3 separate regions of the Homo sapiens genome follow, and all the other regions are linked to region 3. Evidence: fine-mapped expression QTL. A gene starts in region 3. Each other region holds a variant in brackets. All regions are shown on one strand. Distances are between the middles of the regions. Region 1 overlaps SLC12A1 (solute carrier family 12 member 1). Region 2 overlaps FBN1 (fibrillin 1). Region 3 holds the start of CTXN2-AS1 (CTXN2 antisense RNA 1).

The links. PIP is the estimated chance that this variant, and not a neighbour inherited with it, causes the effect.
Region 1: its variant is the best candidate, but not a certain one, in a credible set for the expression of CTXN2-AS1 in whole blood (INTERVAL, PIP 0.62).
Region 2: its variant is the best candidate, but not a certain one, in a credible set for the expression of CTXN2-AS1 in whole blood (INTERVAL, PIP 0.61).

What each region holds. Positions count from the first base shown.
Region 1 is chr15:48,256,714-48,260,956 of GRCh38, reverse strand. SLC12A1 (solute carrier family 12 member 1) reads right to left here. Exons shown (of 27, transcript NM_000338.3): 17 at 1,646-1,757. Among named protein-coding and RNA genes, the nearest start is that of SLC12A1, 53 kb to the right of the region's middle. The variant G/T (reference allele first, on the strand shown) is at 1,836.
Region 2 is chr15:48,535,501-48,539,743 of GRCh38, reverse strand. FBN1 (fibrillin 1) reads left to right here. Exons shown (of 66, transcript NM_000138.5): 7 at 1,936-2,133. Among named protein-coding and RNA genes, the nearest start is that of FBN1, 110 kb to the left of the region's middle. The variant C/T (reference allele first, on the strand shown) is at 1,798.
Region 3 is chr15:48,189,327-48,193,569 of GRCh38, reverse strand. CTXN2-AS1 (CTXN2 antisense RNA 1) reads left to right here and starts at 1,861. Exons shown (of 3, transcript NR_184082.1): 1 at 1,861-1,985; 2 at 2,509-2,637; 3 at 4,061-4,243. It overlaps CTXN2 (cortexin 2), which reads right to left and starts at 1,905. Exons shown (of 2, transcript NM_001145668.2): 1 at 1,717-1,905. RefSeq lists an enhancer at 1,398-1,901.

The sequences.
Region 1 (4,243 bases), 67 kb before region 3:
TAATTGCATTAAGTTATATTGTTTGAATTACTGTCATATAAGCACTGAGAGGAAAGAGAATATGAACAACTGCTTCATAAAGCATTTAGAATATTGCCAAGTGTAAAGAAATGCTTAAGTGCTGATCATGATGACATGTGGTAAATTAGCCCCCAGCATCATGGCAGAGTTGACTGGTTCTAAAGTCACCTGACTTCCTGACAGCCCTATTCCTTGGCAGGTATTGGAGATTTAAGTAGTGGTGCTGGATTTCAATAGTACTCCCAAGGATGCAAGTGTGCTAAGGCTTTCTCCTCAAGGCGTGACACTTAGCACACTTGTGTGGCCTGGACTGATATCTTGGCTCTGCCACTTTCTTGTCATGTGATCCAGTGCAATAATTTAATTTTCCTGAATCTCACTTTCCCAATCACTAAAATGGGAACAGGGCTACTTTTCTTTCCTGCTTCACTAGGCTATTGTGTGGCTCCAATAAGAAAAACTGTAGAAAAATGCTTTGAAGAAAAATGGTTTGAAGAATACGTAAGTACTTAAGTACTATAAAAATGCATTGATAGCTGAGAATTTTCAGTGGTGTGTGTGTGTGTGTGTGTGTGTGTGTGTGTGTGATAGAGAGAGAGAGAGAGAGGGAATACAAGTAGAGGTGGGCTAGTGTGGAGGACTTAGACTTTATTATTATTATTATTATTATTATTATGGAGTCTTGCTCTGTAGCCCAGGCTGGAATGCAGTGGTGTGATCTTGACTCACCATAACCTCCACCTCCCAGGTTCAAGCGATTCTCCTGCCTCAGCCTCCTGAGTAGCTGGGATTACAGGCATGCATCACCATGCCTGGCTAATTTTTGTATTTTTAGTAGAGAGAGGGTTTTGCCATGATCGTCATGGTCTCGAACTCCTGACCTCAGGTGATCCGCCCACCTTGGCCTCCCAAAGCGCTGGGATTACAGGCATGAGCCACTGCACCCTTTGGCTTATTATTTTATTATTATTTTAATGCTTTCTCCACACTTGAGAAATTGGTCAACAGTTATGATTAAATTACTAGCACCAGTTTTGAATACCTCTTAGGAAACTCACCAATAAGTTATTATTAGTCTACCATGTATTTCCTGGGCAAAAATAATTCATTTAGCTCTGAATGTTTATCTAAGGCATGAAAAACTTGGTTTAGTTTTTAGAGTATCTGCAATGTCATCAAACTTATCCAAATATTTAATCTAAATTCTATGTGCTGTCATTTAAGGCCATTATGTCTGGTTCTTTCCTCATCAGTTAATCTCTATAATAGTGCTCTATTTGGCTCATTCCATCTTTTTATATTTCTGTAGACAGTTATCACCCCAAATGCCTTCATTTTATTTCTGAGCCAGCTATCTTTTTCTTGACTCAAAGGCCATCATTTGGAAATATTTGTCACTTTTAGTTGGTCTCTTATGAAATCTGAAACGCTTTACATCTACCTGTTTAAATTCAGGATCACGGGCTCTTGCTTGTCCTTGCTCTATGAATCAAGGTAGAGGGCTCTCCTATAAACTGTTTTTTTGCTATTTTCCTGTCACTGCATGTACCTTTTCTCCTCACCCAAAATAATCCAAGATAAGCAGGGAGGAAAAAGGACTTCCCTGGGGTGAAGTGGCTCTTACCACAAAGACTTCACAGCAGATGCAAAGGCCACTGTTCTTGGTAAAGGCGTGAGTTATGTCCAGGAGAGCAGGTCTTGTCATGGGTCCCCCTGTTAAGACAATGCACTGGGGCCTGGAAGTAAAAAAAAGATGTGAAAATGAGCCCCTGCAAGAAGCCTGTAACCTTAGAACCATTCCAGTGGGATGACAG[G/T]TACAGAGGCTTGGAAAAATGGGGCAACCTCTCCCCTATCTATTTTTTGGGTTTCGCACCAGTATTCTTGAATCATCCTGCCTGTCTTGACATGTTTGTGTTCTCAGTTCAGTTAGTCCTAGCAAAAGTGTGAAGTAAGGAAAAAGTGGTCTTATGGTCCTGATATGGTTTGGCTGTGTTCCCACCCAAATCTCATCTTGAATTGTAGCTTCCATAATTGCCACGTATTGTGAGAGGGACCCAGTGGGAGGTAATTGAATCATGGGGACAGATGTTCCCATGCTGTTCTCATTCACCCTCCACCATGATTGTGAGGCCTCCTCAGCCATGTGGAACTGTGAGTCTATTAAATCTCTTTTTCTTGAAAAATTACCCAGTCTTGGATATTTCTTCATAGCATCATGAAAATGGACTAAAATTCGTACTGGTAGAGTGGGGTGCTGCTGTAAAGATACCCAAAAATGTGAAAGTGACTTTGGAACTGGATATAACAGGCAGAGGCTGGAACAGTTTGGAGGGCCCAGAAGAAGACAGAAAAATGTGGGAAAGTTTGGAACTTCCTAGAGACTTGGAGGGCTCAGAAGAAAGGAAGATGCGTAAAAGTTTGGAATTTCATAGAGACTCATTGAATGGCTTTGACCAAAATGCTGATAGTGATATGGACAATAAAGTTCAGGCTGAGGTGGTCTCAGATGGAGATGAAGAACTCCTTGGGAACTGGAGTAAAGGTCACTCTTTTTTTTTTTTTTTTTTTTTTTTTTGAGACGGAGTCTCGCTCTGTCGCCCAGGCTGGAGTGCAGTGGCGGGATCTCGGCTCACTGCAAGCTCCGCCTCCCGGGTTCACGCCATTCTCCTGCCTCAGCCTCCCAAGTAGCTGGGACTACAGGCGCCCGCCACTACGCCCGGCTAATTTTTTGTATTTTTAGTAGAGACGGGGTTTCACCGTTTTAGCCGGGATGGTCTCGATCTCCTGACCTCGTGATCCGCCCGCCTCGGCCTCCCAAAGTGCTGGGATTACAGGCGTGAGCCACCGCGCCCGGCCGTAAAGGTCACTCTTGCTGTGCAAAGAGACTGGCAGCATTTTGCCTCTGCCCTAGAAATCTGTGAAACTTTGAACTTGAGAGAGATGATTTAGGTATCTGGCAGAAGAAATTTCTAAGCAGCAAAGTGTTCAAGAGGAAACAGAGCAAAAAAGTTGGAAAAATTTGCAGTAGAAAGGAAAAAACCATGTTCTGGGGAGAAATTTAAGCTGGCTGCAGAAATTTGCATAGGTAACAAGGAGGCAAATGCTAATCACCAAGACAATGGGGAAAATATTTCCGGGGCATGTCAGAGAACTTCACAGCAGCCTCTCTCATCACAGGCCTGGAGGCCCAGGAGGGAAATATCGTTTCCTGGGCATGGTCCAGGGTCCCCCTGCTGTGTGCAGCCTAGGGACTTGGTGCCCTTTGTCCTAGCTGCTCCAGCCATGGCTAAAAGGGGCCAAGGTATAGCTTGGATGGTGGCTTCAGAAGGTGAAAGTCCCAAGCCTTGGCAGCTTTCATGTGGTGTTGGTCCTGTGGGTGCATAGAAGACTAGAATTGAGGTTTGAGAACCTCCTCCTAGATGTCAGAGGATGTATGGAAATGCCTGGATATCCAGGCAGAGGTGTGCTGCAGGGGCAGAGCACTCATGGAGAACCTCTGCTAGGGTAGTGCAGAAGGAAAATGTGGGGTCGGAGCCCCCAGACAGACTCCCCACTGGGGCACTGCCTAGTAGATCTGTAAGAAGAGGACCACAGTCCTCTAGACCCCAGAATGGTAGATCCACCGACAGTTTGCACTGTGCACCTGGAAAAGCTGCAGACACTCAACACCAGCCAGTGAAAGCAGCCAGGAGGGAGGCTGTACCCTGCAAAGCCACAGGGGCAGAGCTGCTCAACACCTTGGGAACCCACCTTGCATCAACATGACCTGGATATGAGACATGGAGTCAAAGGAGATCATTTTGGAGCTTTAAGATTTTACTGCCCCACTGGATTTCGGACTTGCATGGGGCATGTAGCCCCTTTGTTTTGGCCAATTTCTCCCATTTGGAACAGGTGTATTTACCAAATGCCTGTATCCCCATTGTATCTAGGAAGTAACTAACTTGCTTTTGATTTTACAGACTCATAGGCAGAAGGGACATGCCTTGTCTCAGATGAGACTTTGGACTGTGGACTTTTGAGTTAATGCTGAAATGAGTTAAGACTTTGGGGGACTGTTGGGAAGGCATGATTAGTTTTGAAATGTGAGGACAAGAAATTTGGGGGGGGGGGCCAGGGATGGAATGATATGGTTTGGGCTGTGTCCCCACCTAAATCTCATCTTGAATTATAGTTCCCATAATCCCCATGTGTTGTGGGAGGGACCCAGTGGGAGGTAATT
Region 2 (4,243 bases), 350 kb before region 3:
GGCTATATCATGCAGAGAAGAGGGACACAGAGGTCTTAGGCTTGTCTTTTGGCATGGTGAGTCTGGTTGCATGTAGATATCACTCACACAATTTTTGACCTGTTTGCATATCACCTGTACTAGTATTTAATATTTTTAAAAAATTGAATTAAAAGGTTTTTCAATTCATCATCCTCATAGCAGACATAACTGTGAAATCATGAGTCTGATATATTTATGCTGTTTCATAATACACATTAAAATTAATATGTGACTACTAAAATCTAAAATTATCTTGCATCCTGTGAGTGGGACATAACACTGGCATGGAGGGAGGGAGCTGGGGAACTGGGGACTCGGCATTTGGACCATCCTGTCTGTCTCTCCAGTGCTGCCATAGCTTGGATATGGTAGTCTTCTTTACATATATGACTGGCATGGAGTTTTGTTTTTGGAATTCTTCAGAAGGTTGATCTTACAGCATGGGCATCAGAGCAGTGCTGTTTCTGCAACACCATTGAACAGAGGTGGTTCATTGCAGATAGCAGAGGAGAGGGAGGAAGAGCACGTAGTGATGGGGAGCAGATGGAGTTGAAATTCCAAGGGAGGGGTTGGAGTGGAGATGCAAGAAAAAGAAAGCAAGAGAGAACACACAGGATAGAGGGATGCCAGCAGATAAGATTCAGCTATTGCCAAAACATTGTTACGATCCAGAATGTTGACTCTTGCTGGTACTGTAATGAAAAGTTGTCCTTTTTTCCTTAGTAAATAGCATGTCTGCGATGTCCTATGAGCTACTTAAAGAAAGAAGAAAATAATGAAAGCATCCCAGTAGTTTCATTAGCACAGCCAGTGATTTTCATAAAACTGTTGCGTTCACAGGTGAAAGGAACTTACTGGGGTCATTGAGTCCATTTTTAGACTCACAGGGATCACTGCACCTAAACACTTCTGAAAATGACCTGGAAGCATGCAAATGTTGGTTTGTGGATAGAAGCCCATGAGTCTTACCCCAGCCCAGCCTCCCTTGTCTGTCAAGGTCATTGTAGAACCACGGAAATGGATATTATGGCCCTGATTTCTCTCACAAGGGGACAACCTGGGTTTGGTCCTCTGTGCTCACTACGTCTTTATCTTTCTTATTTGTTGTTGGCTCTCTCTCTGTAGGAAAAAAAAAAAAGAGGCAGATCTTATAGCTGGTGGTAGACTGCTCTGATTGGAAATTCTCTTGTGGACTTAGCTTATCCCTGTTTTGCTTTAAGATGGTCCTTTTGCCTAGGGGTTACAATGATTTCAGACCAGTGTCCTCACTCTTTATATTAAAACCTAATGTGTTTTGCATGGACAAAATTTTAAATTCTTGTTTGTTGGTTTGCTTGTTTTGTATTTGAAATAAGATGACCCCAACTCAAAAGAAACAGATAACCATTTCTTTTATTGAAGGAACTCCCAGGAAGAAGGTGCCATGACTTGCCTCACTGCAAGCTTCAAAATTCTTTGCTTTCTCAGCCCTAAATAACAATAGACTGGAAGCTCTGTGAGGTCAGGGATTTGGCCTCTTTTAGTCACTGAAGCATCTGTATCAGGCATAGGAGCTGATTCAGTGTAGGCACTGATATATTTTCTTAAGTAATGAGTGGATAATAATATTACCATGTTACATTTGTATAGCAATTCACAGTTGTAAAGAGTTTTCCATTAGCTCGCCTGATCCTCACAATGCCGTTTTCAAAGTGGGTAACAACTGATGTTTTCATCCCTATTTTGTAGGTTAGGAAATCGGGTTCAGAAGTAGAATGGTCTATCCAAGGCCTTACA[C/T]AGGGACAGTGATGCATGATTCTGTCCCTGAAATTCATTTCTCAATTTGGAGTCAAGCAAGATGGAGCACAGCTGTTCCTCTGCATGATGGTTCCTGCTTTTCTGGATTTTCATCAGATTTTTATTCTTTATTTTCAGATTACAGGACAGGCCCATGTTTTACTGTGATCAGCAACCAGATGTGCCAGGGACAACTCAGCGGGATTGTCTGCACAAAAACGCTCTGCTGTGCCACAGTCGGCCGAGCCTGGGGCCACCCCTGTGAGATGTGTCCTGCCCAGCCTCACCCCTGCCGCCGTGGCTTCATTCCAAATATCCGCACGGGAGCTTGTCAAGGTAAACCCGGGCTGATGGAATTATTAATGGATTAATCTTATTTGCTCTGGAGAGCCATTCTCCAATGAAGTTGAAGAGAATGGAAAAGTAGTGTCAGCTACATAACTTCACAATTTCGCTGACTGCATGATATCCAACTAAGGCATTAGGAACGTGGCTCTCGAGAGAGCAGCTGAAGTCTTACTGAATGTTTTCTTGCCAACCATTCCCCCTTTCTGACCCCAGAGGTGTTTGTATGTACCTCTGACTCCAGGGGTGGTGTGATTCTGTTTACAGCGATGCAGTGCATTATGGCAGTGCTGTGTAGAAACACAAAGCAAGGTTTGTGAACAAGGTAGTTTATGTTTTTCTTAATTTTTTTTCTTCATTTGAAACTGTTGAGTTCCTCTCTCATGGGTTGTGCTTAATTGACCTGAAGAAAATTGTTTCTCTCGACATTTTGCATGCTACATTTTGCATTTTTTTACAAGTCCAAAATAAATTAGGATTTGTTTCACAGTTTTAAATATCCCCAGATGTCGCCTGCTAGCTGCTTCTCCTGCCTCCCGTAGAAGCCCTTACTCTGTTTTTGGCTTTTACTCCTGTTCTTCCAGCTGTACAAATTCTTTTATTGTCTGGATGTCTGGCAGGAAACAGGAGGAAGTGAACAGAGGCAGCTCCACACTAAACTGATGGGATTGAAAACTCTCAGCCTGTATCTGTTTCCTTTAGACAGCCTCAGGACTTTTTATAGCAAGTTGCAATATTTTCAGAAACTTCAGGATATGCTTTTCTGAGGCAAATAGATAATACTTTGGCGTTGTTTTGTATGTTAATTCTAAGGGTAATGTGCAATAAAACAGAACTTGAGCTTAGTCACACAGTTTTGTGGGTCTCCATTACATTCCACTTCAATAAATTCCACTTCTGATATTGTCATTCCTGGCCTTCAGCTCCCATGTACAACATACAGCTCCTTTGGATGCCCTTAAATGTATCCCTCTGAATGTCAGGAGAAGAAATAAGTCACCTTGAAACTCTAAAATTATCAAGGGATGGATTGTAGTATTTTACAAAAGTTTAGTTGTTTTTTGGTGCCTTCTTATTTTTCCCGTTTTTAGAAAATCCCAGTGAGTTTTGAAGAATTTGTTCATCTTGGGATTACAAAGTTAGCTAATACCCATGAACTTGTTGACAGTGACCAGAGAGCTAGACTTTTAACTGCCTCAGCTGCCCATCAGTGACCCATTGTCAGAGGTTAGGGTGCTAATGGAATTGGGGGGGTGGGGATAATGAACTGCCTTCTCTTTAGCTTTGCTATTCGTTTCATAAATCTGGATCTTTCCAGCATTTGCTTCCTGTTTCTTTCTAACTCTGCTATTCAACATCCAAGAAAAAAAATGTTTTTTATAAGAAAAGTTTTGAAAACCCATTGAATCACAATGGCAGTTATATTGCTATTTTGAGAGTGAAATTCTTCATGTTTGGTTGTTGTTGTTGTTGTTGTTGTTGTTTTTTCTAAGAGATTCTGCCACCAGGTTGTGGCTCTTGCTCCTTGCTGGTGTTTCCAGTCCTTGGGTCAGATGTGAGGGGCTGTGGGCAAATGGGTTCATAAAGGAGCTTATTCTGTCTTCAGACCTGGAGTATACAGCCAGTGGAGAATTGCCTTGTCTATATTTTCTGTTGGCCAGAAATCATGATCAACAAGACAGCTAGTTCTGCCTATATGTAAAAATCTTGATTTTCAAAAACATTTTAAAAAATACATTCAACACATCAAGAGAATGGAAAATTCTGGTCTAAGACAAAACTGAAATTGGCTAGAAAACATAATTTAATGATTTTCCACATATAATCATGTATCTGTGGGTTAAGATATTTCATTTAAAACAGTAAGTGATACTTTTATAATAAACTAAATTGTTGTTTCTTTAATATCCCTTTTACTGCATGCTGACTTTTCTCAAGAACACAGGTTGAGATCTTATAAACAGCAATCACTTTTTTCTTTACTCAATGAAGAGTGAAACTAAAGAGCACATTAAGCTTCCAGGTTTCAAAAAGAATACATTAGACTGTTTGCTTGGGGATTCTTTATTAAATCAGACTTTTCTGTTATGAACAAAGAGAT
Region 3 (4,243 bases):
ATCCTGTTTATTGGGAAATAGAAAAAAAAAGAAATCTGAGAAAATTTAGATTAAGTTACAAAACCATATATTAAAAAATCCATATAAAAATAGTTAAGAAAAAATGAACTTTCAAAAATAAGTAGAATGTAAAATTGGGTAGTGGTAAAAGTTATTTGAAATATATTATACCACAAAATTGGGTAAAATAAACAATGCACAGTTTAAATATCAGGATCAATATATATAATGATTAAAATATTTAAGTGTCTTTTAATACTACTGATGCAAATGATAAAATATTGTCTTGAGCCATATTCACTGGAATAAATGGTTAGGTACTTTGGCAATGAGTAACTTGGTTGAAAGTACATTTCCTTCATGGCAATTGTCAGGCACCAAGATTTCTAAGTACTGATGAGTCATAAGATTGGGCCAGGGGTGTTCCTGTAGATATCAAATAGCCCAAATCTCATGAAGTTGCTTTGTAATTGGCAACTAGTAAGTAAAAAACAAAGTCTTCCTATGATCAGTACTTACAAATCATATCTCCGTAAGCAGTTAAGCAAAGATGATAGTATTTTTATACCTGATATGCAGCCTTTCATATTCATGAATATTGTTAGTGATGTTTATGTCTTCTGTGAAATAACCTTACTAGAGATATAAAAATATACCTTTCAGATAAAATCATTTAATCATGCAACAATGCACAATTACAGAAACTAATGTTAAAAAGTGTGTACCCATTAAAGAAAGAACCTCCTGTGTTTTATTTTAATCAACAGGTTTTTCCTCTTGTTTATTTCTCTAGTAATGGTATTCCAAACAATAAACCTGAAATAATAACTATTAGAGTGGAATATGATGTTCTAGGTAGAAAGTATTTTAGCACTGGTCATTAGATATAATAATCTCTACTGCTAATGATGACATTCATAATTTCATGAAATAAGACATATAAGAAAACCCAAGCTTAAAAAATAATGAACCATTCCATACATATACACACTCCACACAAAATATAAAGATTATATCCCAGTAAAAGAGAGAAAAGAAGCATTATTGAAACCACATCTGCACAGAGGTAGTTAATCATTAAGAATCGAATGTGTTGGAATAAAAGGAAAACCTTAAATTACAAACCTAGATGTCTTCATCATGGTGAAATGCATAAATTTCAGGGCTTTCCAGAGATCCCAGACCTTAGGATCTGCCAGAATCCACCCCTAAACCCTCAGATTTCAACCTTAAGAGAATTTCTCTCTTAAGAGAATCTTTGGATGGCTCAAGGACTCTGACACTCAATCCTTCCAACGCACTGGGAAACCTGGTCTGAAAATTCTCCAGATATCTCATTAAAGAAACCTAGACCATCATCATCATTCTGCGTTGTTTGTTTCCAGGTCTCTTTCTACGCACTAAACCGAAGAAGCATGGAAACTTCCTACAAAACATTATGGGAGAAGCATCAGCAATCTGCACGTACACAACACTTTTCCCCCGCCTGGCAGCCGCATCAGCAGTGGCGCTAGCATTAGGGGTGCTGTTTCTCCTTTAGAATTTGAACTTATCAGACCTACTGGCTCCTCCACCCACCGCCCCACCCCCCGCTCTTTTGCTTCAGAAATACAAGAGAATGAGGACATGCTTCTCATCTGGACCTGCATTTGGAACGCTGTCAGTTAATGCGGAGGGAAGGGGGAGAAAGTTACTTCGCAGACAGCGATGTCTCACCTTCCATGCTTGTTGCCATGGAGATGAAGTCCAGCCAGTAGACTTAAGTGTTGGCACGTTTGTCTGTGTTCGCTGATCGGTTCAGTAACAAATGTAGAAGGCGTGTTCTGGAACCTGCGTAGAGTCACAGGGCCCTGGTTAGCGCTTTCCTGGCCTAGAAGTGTAAATGTCTGTGTCTGTTGGTGAGACAGAGGACGTGGGCGCCCGCCGAAGTACGTGTGCGCGCGCGCGTTTGCAGGAAAACGTGCATGGATTTCTTCGGTGTGGCAGTGTGTAAATATTTGCGCTCGCGTGTGTCTGTGGCAGCATCTGTGTGTGTATGTGAGACTGAAAGGAGGTGGGAGATGAGGAGGGGAAGGGAATCAGCTCCAGCAGCAACAGGCTCTATTCTTCAGTTCTGCTAAAAGAAAGAGGAAGAGAGGAAGAAAAAAATAGACACTCCTTTTTTTTCTCACGACACACCCTGAAGGTTAGCAATTAGATTTCATCATTATCTTTGTTTACTAAGGCAGTGAGGGTTTAATTGATTTACTGCTGAAATCCTTGTTTTGCTCTCTTTGCTGCATTCCTGGCTGTGCTGCGGGCATTTTGCTGTGCTTTGGTGACAGCCGTTTTCAGTAGAACAGTAGGCACTAAATTCTTACACGTTTCTTCTTATCCGGTAAGGAAAATTCAGGAGTGAAAGGTGTATTGATTTAACTGGAGACTGAATGTGTCGTTTGGAGTTCTTTTCCTCTACTCTTTCCCTTCTCTCTTCCACACAAACACAACTGAATCCCCTTCCGTTTCTAGGAGAAGGCGCCTAGGCGCTGTCCGTAGTGCTGAAATGGTGCGTGGTGAGACCTGTCTCCCCAACACAAGCTAGAAGACAACAAAATAGCAGCCAGGAAACGCTCTGATAAAGCTCTAGATAGCTGCCAGGTACGTTTTCTAAACAGTGTTGAATATGTAGATTCTAAACCTAACCGACGTTGAAAGCAAGGTAAAGCAAAGCAAAGCAAAGGAAAACAAAAAAACAACAACAGAAACCTTGCTCTTTATCCTTATTTTAGGGGTCTGGCCGTTTCAACAAACTCAGTTACAGGGTTCCCAATTCTATTTATGTTTTGCGACTCTATCCAGAACCTACAAGTTGCAAGCACTTTTAGATTCCCTACAATCTTAATTATTCACCTTATAACTACTGGACTGTGAGTCGTTGGGGGAAATGTAGATACAGAATTGGGACACTCATCTAAAGAAAATACTTTGAAAACGTAATGTAACTGCAACTAGATTCAATAACAAAGTGAAGACAAACTTCATGATTATTTAGAGTATTTACTGATTTAGGAAATGTAATGGTCTTACAAAAAAATGGGCAATGTATAACTGAGAGTTCATATAAGACCACATTTTTTAAAAGTTGTTTTTTGATTTTAAACTATTAAGATGTCCTAAAATGTAGGTGAACTAACTGCCCTCTATGAAAGACTGAAAGACATATCTTATTCTAGGGACATTTCCATGGCCATGGTTTTATTGACCCTTTTTAAACTTGCCAAGGGCCACATTCTTTATTAGCACTCTGGGCTGGAACAGTGCTTCTTGAAGTATAACATGCATATGAATCTTCAACGATCTTGCTAAAATGCAGACTCTGATTCAGTAGGTGTGGGGTTGGGTCTCAGATTGTGCTTTTCTGACAATTTCCTAGGTGATGCCAGAGATTACTAGTTTTGGGACCAATTAAAGTAGCAAGATGCAGCCAGGAGTGGTGGCTTATGCCTGTAATCCCAGCACTTTGGGAGGCCGAGGTAGGAGGATCACCTGAGGTGAGGAGTTTGAGACCAGCCTGACCAACATGGCGAAACCCTGTCTCTACTAAAAATACAAAAATTAGCTGGGTGTGGTGGTGGGTGCCTGTAATCCCAGCTACTCAGGAGACTGAGGCAGGAGAATCACTTGAACTCAGGAGGCGGACATTGCAGTGAGCTGAGATTGTGCCACTGCACTCCAGCCTGGGTGACAGAGCGAGACATTGTCTCAAAATAAATAAATAAATAAAAATAAAGTAGCAAGATGCTAGAGATATTGAATTCTGGCAATGCAGTCAGTCATAGATTGTGGGAAAGGAGATCATTTTATTCCATCTATTATTCTATGTATGTTTCCAAACTGTTACAAAAATAATTTATTCAAAATTAGTTCAGAGACTAATCATGTAAACATTTTGTCTGTACAGTATGAACAATTTTTTATGAATTTGATTCCTTTGATTTTGATTTTGACATTGTCTGGACCAGTGGTATAGTTGAGTCTGTATTTCCATACTATGATCTATAACCATTCATTCTCTTTGCAGGCCGAGCTCAAGGGAGCAGAACTAAGTTACATGATTCTGCTGCGGATGTATAAGCACCACTCCAATAATTTATTATCACGGTTGGAGACTTTGACTTGTCACTTTATGACTTGAAATATGGCTCCATGGTAAATGCCCATAAAGCTGATTTTTAAAATCTGGATATTACAGTTCTAATTCTCA